2 separate regions of the Homo sapiens genome follow, and region 1 is linked to region 2. The links come from fine-mapping of genetic effects on gene expression. A gene starts in region 2. The other region holds a variant in brackets. All regions are shown on one strand. Distances are from middle to middle.

Region 1 (5,368 bases), 94 kb before region 2:
GCTGGAACTACAGGCATTTGCCACCACGCCGGGCTAATTTTTGTATTTTTAGTAGAGGTGGGGTTTCACCATGTTGTTCAGGCTGGTCTCGAATTCCTGACCTCAAGTGATCCGCCTGCCTTAGCCTCCCAAAGTGCTGGGATTACAGGCGTGAGCCACCGTGAGAGTTCTTTGTATATATTCTGAATCAATCCTTGATGAAATAGATTTGCAAAGATTTTTCTCCTGGTTGGTGGCCTTGTCCTCTCACCGTTAACCATCTGAAGAGCAAATTTTAAACATTTTTGATGAATTTCAGTTTGTCAATTTGTTCTTTTAGGAATTGTGCTTTTGGTATCATGTCTGAGAAATCTTTGCCTTATCCAGAGCCATAAAGATTTTCTCCTGTGTTTTTATGGCTCCAGCTTTACATTTAGACCCACGATCCTTTTTGAGTTAATGTTTGTGTATAGTGTGAGGTACGAATGCAAATTATTCTTCTTTTTCTTTTTGCATATGGAGATCCAGTTGTTCCAGAATATGAAATTGCTGCAGCATGGTTTCTTGAAGAAGCTACAGTTGTGCACCGAGTCGCCTTTGCACCTTTGTCAAAAGTCTGAACTGTGCATGGTGGTGGGTGCCTGCGGTCCCAGCTACTTGGGCGGCTGAGGTGGGAGGATCCCTAGAGCCTGGGAATTTGAGGCTGCAGCGAGCAGAGATTGCACCACTGCACTCCAGCCTGGGCAACAGAGTGAGACCCTGCCTGAAAAAAAGTCATCAGTCTGTGTGTGTAAGCTGATTTCTGGACCGTTTTCTTTTGGATCTACTTGAATATTTTTACACCAGTATCACTCAAGTTTTGCTTACACTGGTCTTATATGAATTCTTAGAATGTTAGCTCTTCAATTGTGTTCTTTTTCCGGATTGTTTTAGCTCTTCTCCTCCTCTGCTTTTCCATATGTGTTTTAGAATGGACCTGTGAATTTCTATAAATGCAGGGAGAGTTGACATCTTAACAGTATTGAACTTACTAATCCACGAACCTTGGATGTCCCTATTTATTCAGGTCTTCTTCCACTTCTTCCAAGGATTTTTTACTCTTTCAATTTGGAGGTCTTTCACATCTTTTGTCAGATTGACCTCTAAGTATTGTCTATTTTTATACAGTTAGGAAGTGGTATTTTTAATGTCAATATCTGATAGTTGATTACCATTTTATAGAAACACAATGGACTTTGTATATCAGTCTTGTTATTCCACAACCTTGTTAATCTCACTGAGTAGTTCTTGCAGGTTTTTCTTTTGTTGTTGATTCCATCGGGTTAGATGGTCACGTTATCTGTAGATAAGATTGTTTTCTTTTTCCTTTCTCGTCTGTATGGCTTTTATTTCTTTTGGGGGCCTAATTGCACGAGCAGGAACCTCCAGGTCAATGTTGGACGGAGGTGATGAGGGCGGACATCCCAGCCTCCTTTCTGTTCTTAGTGAGAAACTGTTCAGTCTTCCGCCATCGGTTGTGGGGTTTTCATAGATATCCTGTATTAGGTTAGGGAAGTTCCCTCTATTCCTAATTTACTGAGTGATGTTTTTTAAACAAATCAGGAACCGACGTTGGATTTTTCAAATGCTTTTTCTGTACTGTTAAAAGAAAAACCTTAGACAAATTAAATTTAACAGAGTTTAATTAAGCAAAGAACCACTCGCTAATGGGGCAGCCCCCAAACCAAAATAGGTTCAGAGAGGCTCTGGTGCTGCCGTGTGGCTGAAGATTGGTGGACAGAAAAGGGAAAGGAGGCACAGAAAACGGAAGCAAAGCACAGAAACCGCCAGAGGGGCTGCAGCTCCATGCTTGCCTTATCTGAACACGGTTGGAATGGCCGGCACCCTTGATGAGCGGAAACCTGGTGAGTGGCACAAGGGAAGGCTTCAGTCTGTTTACGTCTCCAGTGAGGTTTCAGTTCACAGTGGATGGAGAAGGCGGAACATAAACTATGTCAGGAGGCAGCTTTACGCCAAGCTTAATTTAACGATTTCCCCCTTTAGACATTGGTGTCCCTGTCGCCATTGTAAATGTACTTGTTTGGTCCCAAGCCCCACTGGGAAATAGCAGAACAATGGGTTTCGTAAGTGGGAACGAGGACCTCGGGTTATATATTTTTGTAAGGGATAGAGAGGAACCTCCTTGTGCTGGAATTTCATGTGCTCAGAAAAACAAACCCTGGTCTGCCTTAGGACCTATCTGCTTCCGTAAAGCTTCGGTTTGATGGTGTTGCGTTTAGCTTGCGTGACTCCATCTGGGTTTGGTCTGGTCCGTTGGGGCCTCTTGCGGGAGCTCAGTCCAAAACAATGGCCTCTTATAATTTTGTTTAAAAATTCCCTGCCTTTGGTCAGGTTCTCATTTAGTGGAAAGTGTAGCCAAGCCTTAGGGCCTTGGCACCACCCTCAGTCACCGCCACTTCCAGCTTCCGGTCACAGAATGTCATTCGTACCTAGGTTACGACATCCTCATGGCCTTGTGTTTCTTTGAGTTCTTGTTGCTCCAGTCAAAGAGACACCATTTAGCATCCTACAGATGGCTGCATGCAAACATTTAAAACTCCGGAGAGAATGCAGAGCGCCAGGGAGACGAGTATTATGACCATCAGGAAGATCATATTTAATACCAAGAATGTGAAGCATGCTCCTTAGGTGGGGTCCCATGAAGCAAACCAACGAAAATCAAATAGATCAGAGAGTTAGCTGGATAAAGAGTCTACTCATTTCAAACAAGCAGCCTGTTTGTTAATCCCCTACAACC[G/A]AACCTTTCTAATACCTGATACATTCCTCCATGTGCCACAAGAAGCATCGGCAACGGCACAGACGCTCCTCTGTTTAGCTAGTAAGGGATCCAGAGCAAGTCTATCATCCCACACACCTTTAGCAAGAGAATTTAAAGACTGTTGTGTAACCATAGCCTTTGGAGTAGAATCTGTTCCAGAGCCAATTACGAGGGATACTTTTTTTTTTTTTTTGAGACCGAGTCTCGCTCCGTCGGCTGGAGTGCAGCGGCGCCAGCCATGTCTCGGCTCACTGCAACCTCCACCTCCTGGGTTCAAGCGATTCTCCTGCCTCAGCCTCACGATTAGTTGAGATTACAGGCGCCCGCCATCATACCCAGCTTATTTTTAATATTTTTAGTAGAGATAGGGTTTTGCCGTGTTGGCCAGGATGGTCTTGATCTCTTGACGTTGTGATCCACCCACCTCGGCCTCCCAAAGTGCTGGGATTACAGGCGTGAGCCACCACGCCCAGCAGAGGGATACATTTTAAATCTTTGCCTCATTTACTCCAAACCATGGAAAAAGAGGCCTCACAAACAGTGCCCATCTAGAAGAGTGAAGCTCCTGCCAGAGTTCTCTTTAAGCTGTGATGTAGAGGAGTGGAGCGATGTTGTTTGTGATTGATTGGGAAGCAACAAAGGCACCCTCAACATTTTTCACCCAGACCGGGCACAGGGGCTCACGCCTGTAATCCCAACACTTTGGGAGGCCGAGGTGGGCACTTGAGGTCAGGAGTTCGAGACCAGCCTGGTCAACATGGTGAAACCCTGTCTCTACTAAAAATACAAAAATTAGCTGGGCTTGGTGGTAGGTGCCTGTAATCCCAGCTACTTGGGAGGCTGAGGCAGGAGAATCGCTTGAACCTGGGAGGCAAAGGTTGCTGTGAGCTGAGATCACACCACTGCATTCCAGCTTGGGCAACAGAGTGAGACTTGGAGTGAGCTAATTTTTTTTTTCACCTACATTGGCCCTTCGTCTTCCAACTGTCAAGGCAAAAGGTTGTCCACATATAGGATTGGCTGCAAAATCCTCCACAAATAAAAGTATACCCCATGAGTGCACATAAGAGATCCCTTTTTAGTTCTATTATTCAGAGGCATGACAGTCTCAAGTTCTTGGGAAAAAGCTGTCCATATCTGGGATGCCAGCTGCTTCTGGGGAGAAACTTCCCTGATTAGCTTTACCTTAAAATCTCCAATGGGGCTGCAGTTGCTGGAGTCTGGCGATGCCCTCTTGAGCGGTGAGATAACGAACCCAGGGTTCAAAGTCCTAGAATTTCACTGCAGTGTGGGTGGCAAGGGCAGTCTTTCTGTGATACTCTCAGAAAACCAAATGTCTGGGTTCTAGATTGTGAAGCGTTTGATAGGGTCCTCAGTGGACCATGAAAAGCTTTCTGTACCTGGTGAAAATATACTTAGGCATAATGCATTAAGGCCTAGGAGCCTTTAGCCATATCGGAGTTGAGGAGTGGAAGATACATGAGGTTCTATATAGGACTTCCAGGGACTATTTCATAAGGCACCAACTTATGTTTTCCACTGGAAATGGACCCGACGGCCATCCACCTGCAACACCCTTGACCAAGGCAGCCCAGTTCATTCATTTCCCTTGCTTAATATTATTGTATCTGTAACAAGTTATTAACAGTTTTACCACTTGAGCAGTGAAACAAGTACATCTATCATGGGAGATTTCTCAAGGGACGTCCCATGAGAAAAACAATTTTCTAATAATCTTTTAGCTACTGCTATAACATCAGTGCTCTTGCCTGGGAAAGCTTCTATATAACCAGAAAACACGCATTGAAAATGACAATTGAAGGAAATCCCTCCAGCAATGTTTCAATGGCCCATCAAGTAGCAGAAGTGTAATGGAAGTTTCGATTGTCCTCCCAGGATTATGGGTTTGGCAGACCAAACATTGGTCGTAAACCATTTTAACAACTTACAACGGTCACCATGTCAAATATATATATGTATATTATATATACATATATATATAAAATTTGGATTAATTTGTCTCTTCCATGATGAATCATGGAGTGCAGAGCATTTAATAGTGGAAGCTTCAAGGACACAGGAAGGACCAGGTGGCCATCTTGGCTGTCCATGTGTCCATGCTTGATGCTGGACTTATATCTTCTTAAATACCAATTTTGTTTCTCCAGTTCAGGTGCATAGCACTGTTTATTAGAAGGGTTATCATAGGTAATTTGACTTGGACGATGGATTTAATTCAAATTGGGTATCTAAACAATATCAGTACTGGCTGATTTAGCATGAAAAGCTGGCAAAGTGTTTTCTTGGTATTCAATTAATTTTTGTCCTGCCCAGGTTAGCAATTTTATAAACCAGTCAATCTTTCCATTAGAGTTCCGGGAATTTTTACCCAGTCCAAATGACATTACACTAAAGTTATCAGAAGCCTATTCAAGAGGGCTTATCAGGGTCCTTTCTCTCCTTTCACGAACCTCCTGGAGGACTCAATATTGTAGGACTGTGTGTGTTTGTGAGTTTTCAGAAACGTCAGAAAAAAGCAATTAACTCTGGAAATGACGTAAAATGGTCATG
Region 2 (5,368 bases):
CCCTGGACATCACTCACTGGGTGACAGAGGTTGACAGGCATGGAGCTAAGGAATGGGAGGCAGGGCGGGGGCGGCCAAGCCTCTCCAGCCGCTCCCTTCCCGCTTGCCCCACAGACGGGCCTCCCTGGATGGTCCTGGGTCAGCACACACGCTCCCAGGCGCTTCCTTCCCCAGGAGACAGTCCCCAGCCCCTGGCGGCCCAGATCCTCCTGCTCAGGCCGACGCATCCCACCTGGGCCCCAGAAACCTCTTTGGAAAGGGACAGTCACCTCAGAGTGGCAAGCACTTAAAAGAGACCCCCAACAGGCCGGTGTGTCGTGGTGGCAGGCAGGGTGTGTCTGGAGAGAAGGGGGACGTGTCCCCAGCTGGGCCTGGGGGCGGCTCCGTGGGAAAGTCCCACCTGGTCCCAGCCCCGGGTCTCCAGCCTTCAGACTCCTTGGGGGTCTCTGTGGCCTGGCAGAGGTCGGTGGCCCCTCAGTGGAGGTGAGGCCTCTCCTGGGTCACCACCGCACACCGGCCTGCTGGGAAGCTGGGGTTCTGGGCCACAGCCGGCCCTGGACGTGGAGGGGGGCATCAGGCCAGACCCCCCAGGGGCTCACAGGGCTCTGGGAGGCCCTGGCAACCCCAGGGTGCCCCCAAGCCCTCAGAAGGGTTGTCCCTACTTGGAGGGGACCACACAGCCAGGTGGGCAGGAACAGGCACCACGGCGGCCCTTCCCTGTCCACCCTCTCACCAGTGGCCCGCAGTGCAGTCCAGGAAGCACCGGACAGAGCACGGGGCAGGGAGGGGAGGCCCGTACTGGCTTCACAGAGGTCTGGGAGGGGCTAGCCCCTGTGCAGACAGACCCCTGAAGCCTAGAGCCGCCGGCCCAGCTGAGGTCCTTCCCAGGGGCCATTCTGGGACCCCTGACCCCATGCACCTGTGTCACAGGGCTATGAGCGCCCCCAGCCCCAGGACCTCCACGTTTCTCTCTAGAGGGAAGAGGAGGAGGACGGCAGGCCTGCTGGCCCCACACTTACTGGTTGGGGACGCTCAGAGGGGGCAGCCGCCATGCCGGGAAGTTAGGGTGGGCAGAGGAGCAGCGGTGCCAGGACCCCCAGGCCATGCTGCCACCCCGGACCCTGAACAGTGGGCTAGTGTGTGGGCCTGGGGAGTGAGGGCCCAGGCCGGGCTGGGTCTCGCTCCATAAACCCTGGCTGGCCGGAGCTGCAGACATCACTGTTGACACAGGGGTGATGTCACTGCCGGCCAATGGGGAGACCCTCGGGGGCCCTACGTGTGCCTCTCTGTGCTCCCAGGGCCCCCGCCACGCACGCCGCCTGCTCTGAATGCTGCCTGCATAAACCGGTTTTTCTAAATGTCTTTGGGGCCCTGCTTGCCCCCTGGGCCCCATCTCCTGCTCATCCCACCCCACCCTTGGGCCCAGCCTATGAGCCAAGCGGGAGTGGGGAGTGGCGGAGAGCCCTGGGCCTGCCCGCTCCCACAGGCATGTGGGCCCCAGAGCCCTGACCCCTGCACCTTCACCTCGCCAGCCTCTCTCCCATCTGCCACGACCCCAGCTGCCACCATGGCTCCCCACAGTCACCCCTGGGCCGTCTCTTCCTCCTGTCGGGAGAATGTTCCTCCTGGGAGAGCCTGAGGCCCCCTCTCTGCTCCTTGCTCCCCCGTCTGTCTCCCCTGCCCTGCCTTGCAGCCCTGCCCTGGGTCCATATGCTCAGAGCTGGCTACATATCCTGTGGCTGCCCATGACACATAGCTCCCCCAGGCAGGGCCGGACCCCGGGCACCTCTTTGCCTCCAGGGCCGGCCCCACTCTGTTGGAGGTCAGCCGGTTCCGAGGCCTCCAAGCCGCCTTTCTACTTCTCGATTCCAGGGCCTGGTCTCCACTCCCTCTGGGCTTTGGGGTGCATGCTGCAGTGCAGCCTCCCCGCGCCCCGGCCTCCATGCACCCTGCTCGTGCTGCCTCAGAGGCTTGGCATCTCCCCCATCTTCCAGCCAGGCAGCCAGTTTTCTGCAACGTGGGGCCCACGGTCAGCGTCCCCCACAGCCCTGCCAGCCCTTCTCCCCGGGGGTCCGCCCTGCACCCCCTTCCCAGGAGCTTGCTCTGCACCCACTGCTGGGCCTCCTGGCCTAGGGGCTTGGCACGTGCCTGTGAGCAGAGGCGCTGGGCAGGAGGAGGAGGAGGAGCCTGCAGTGCCTGGCGCCCGTGTGTGTTTACTGGTCCGGCCCCAGCCCCGCGCCGCTCCCCGCGGACCCGGCCTCCCGCCTGTGTCCAGCCAGGTGTTGGGTGATGGAGCGGGGCTCCCTAAGGACAAGGAGCACAGTGTCTGCTTTCTTTGCAAGCACAGTGCTGACAAGGAACAGAATACCCACAGCGACTGCTTCCAGGAAACGGCTGCAGGGCGGGCGGGAGCCTCTGCGAGAGCAGCCCCTTCCCAGCAAGCCGGCCTGCAGGTGGGCTTCCAGGAAGGGGCCCCCGCTGGCTTCCCTCAGCCCTGGAAGGGGGCCAACGGTGTCACCAGGAGCAGGCCAGGGAGCGGGGTAGAGGGGGGAGAAAGAGAAAGGAGAGGCGCGGAGGAGGGAAGGAGGGACGGGGCGCAGGCCTATGCTATGCCTAGTGTGGTTACCACAGCCTTAAGGGAGAGCAAGGCTGACCACAGCTCCTTCTCGAACCTTCCAATCCCCCTTTTGAGAAGTCACAAGATCTCCACTCAGGTCTTTGGCTCTCTGGGGCTTGTCAGGCATCACACACACACACACACACACACACACACACACACACACCCGTGCACACCCATCTGAAAACACAAGCAAGCTGGGCCACTGGGGGAGACCATTCCCTGAGACCCAGCCGGGGTCCAGGTTGAGGGGCTGACCTCCTGGCCCCCATGTTGGGAGGGCCGAGGAGGGCCCCCGCCCGGACCCACTGCGCCCTTGGCTCTGAGTGCTCAGATCCCACCCCCATCTCTAGAGAGGAGGAAATCATTTATCTTCCTGGGAGCTCGGGGTCGGGGAGAGGGGGCTGCCCTCCTTGAGTCCCCGACTGTTTTCTTTGAGACTTCCCAGGGTGCATTGTAGTCAGACCCAAAACATCGCTTTGTCCCTGTTGAAGGGACTTCACTTCCTTCGTAGAGTTGGGATTTTCTGTCTCCATTCGGTGGTATACCAAGTGCCTGCCTCCCACACCCAGCTGCCCCTAATCCCTGCCTGAAAACGTGCTCCTGGGTCACGGAATTCATGCTGAGACACAGCCACACACAGCCAGGCTCAGGGGTCCACCCTCCAGGGAACACCACCCCGCTACAGGGCCACGATCACACACACACCCCGCGGAGCATCTCCGGGCCGGACAGGACCCACGCCCTCCACAGCCCGGAAAGGCGGGTTAACTGGTCAGCATGCAGAGACCCACCAAGTGGAGACCCCGCTCCCAGGCACAGACGCACAGCTGTGGATGCACGTCCTCGGTGACAAGGTAGCTGAGGTCGCGTGCCCCGGGTGTGTACGGCCCACAGAGCCACAGGGGACTCGCCAGGAGATGCGTGCACCGAGGGTCCAGCGTGGCCACAGCAGCAGCACGCGCCTCAAGTCCTCTTCTCTAACTGGATGACTTGGTCTTCACTCAACCTAAACGTGCCGCAGAAACTTGGGTGGGTGGAGGGTCTGGGTGTGAAGACCTCGGTGCCTAACAGGGTCTGGGACGTGGCCAGAAGCCAGGGCACCCTCAGGGTCTCCCTGAACGGTGGAAGTTCCTCCCTCCCCAGATTTCCTGGCACCTTTGCAGGCAGCCACAACCCTCACCCCGGCCCCGCCACCCCCATGTTGGGGTTTGGGAGTGAAATTCCAGCCCGTTTGCTTCTCCGCACTGAAGTCAGTGCAGGGGCGTTTTCAAAGTGCCTTTGGGTGTTGGGGTGCCTGGAGCCTGTCTAACAACCCTCTCTAAGCCCCTTTTCTAAAAAGCAGGAAATCGGGTTGGGCCAAAGATAAACACACATTCCAACCTGGCAGGTCGCTCAGAGCTAGGGGCTCGGGCGGGCTCCCAGCCCCCGCCCCGGGGTGCGGCAGGAGGCTCCGAGGCTGAGCACCTGCTGCGGGGCCCCCGGGCCTGTGGCTCCCCGCCTGCCCGCCTCACCCTGAGGTTCAGCCCCCTGAACGCTGCCCCCACCACCTCCCTGTTTCAGGGCCTGTGGCCCAGACCCCCTCCAGCACTCAGGGGCTGCCCTAGGGACACCACCCCAGGAACTGCCCTAGGAAGCCCGTTCCGCTGCAGGGAGCAGAGAAACCTGGGCTGCCCAGAGGTAGGCGCTGCCCCTGAGTACACGTCCTGCTCTCAGGGGGCAGCCAGCGTGGGCACAGCCATGGGCAGTGCTGGGAGATGGTGGGGGCCACCAAGAGGCCTGTGTCCCTTCCCCAGCGGGTGTGAGGAGGAACAGCCCTGTCCCCATACAGCTCCCAGGTGGAAACTCCAGAGCAAGCGTGTCATTCATACACCCCGGGCCCAGAGATGTGGACGTGTCCAGCACGCCTGTTCTCTCCAAGTGACCAGGAGGAGACAATCCCTAGGAGCTGACACAGGTGACGAAGGCCCGAGGTGGCCCGCCTTTTCCCCCGGCCCCATTCCCATGTGTCCTTCCCCAGGCAGGGATTTGAAGTGGGCAGAGTCTTCCATGTTCTCCAGGAGAGGTTTTCTGGGTGCCCCTCTCCCCCTCCCTACGGTTCCCCTGCCCCGCCACCCTGGGCACCCCTGGGGCTGCCTGCCGCACCCTGCAGCCGCCACCTGGGGAAGCCGGCTTTTATCTCCTGAGCCCTGCTTTGTAAACCTCCTGCAGAGTTGGATGTTTATAATAAAGGCCGTTTATAGACCTAACTCTTGACATGTAATGGATGGGTTACTTCATCCTGCCGGCCAAAACCCACTTGGGTAAGTCAAATTGGCCTGTAGGGTCAGGAAGATGAATGCGGCCTCACCCTGGGCTGGCCCCAGCGACCTCTGACCTCCTCCATGAGATGGCAGCCAGTCCCAGGGGCACCATCCCAGAGACTTCAAGAGACTCCCTCACCGGATGTCTACATGCATCCTGGGGGGTGACCACCCGCCCAGGTTTTAGCACACAAGTGTGTCCCTGGAAACCCCTCGGTCTCTGACAGTCCCCAGGGCCCACAGCTGGATGGGGAGGGGGCAAGAGAGGGTGCAGAGGGGAGGCCAGACCCAAGGGACGTGGGGAACCACCCTGCTCTTCCGCCCTGGACACCAAGACCCCAAGGGCGGCTGGGCCGGTAGGGGAGGGGCGTCCCTAACCGCCTTCCTGTCTGTTCTTTGTCAGTCGGGGAGGAATTTTCCTGACAGCTCTGTGCACTGGGAATGGGGG

The links. PIP is the estimated chance that this variant, and not a neighbour inherited with it, causes the effect.
Region 1: its variant is fine-mapped to the expression of LINC01219 in tibial artery (GTEx, PIP above 0.99). The same link has a PIP of 0.9 or more in tibial nerve.

Annotation. Positions count from the first base shown.
Region 1 is chr11:1,895,263-1,900,630 of GRCh38, forward strand. It overlaps LINC01150 (long intergenic non-protein coding RNA 1150), which reads left to right and starts at 1,497. Exons shown (of 4, transcript NR_120534.1): 1 at 1,497-1,883. It also overlaps a transcript of PRR33 not described here. RefSeq lists an enhancer at 1,558-2,757. The variant G/A (reference allele first, on the strand shown) is at 2,777.
Region 2 is chr11:1,988,807-1,994,174 of GRCh38, forward strand. LINC01219 (long intergenic non-protein coding RNA 1219) reads left to right here and starts at 2,290. Exons shown (of 3, transcript NR_126400.1): 1 at 2,290-2,453; 2 at 3,132-3,474; 3 at 4,449-4,663. It overlaps MRPL23-AS1 (MRPL23 antisense RNA 1), which reads right to left and starts at 1,114. Exons shown (of 4, transcript NR_024471.1): 1 at 1,020-1,114. It also overlaps a transcript of MRPL23 not described here. RefSeq lists enhancers at 1-3,003, 1-3,003.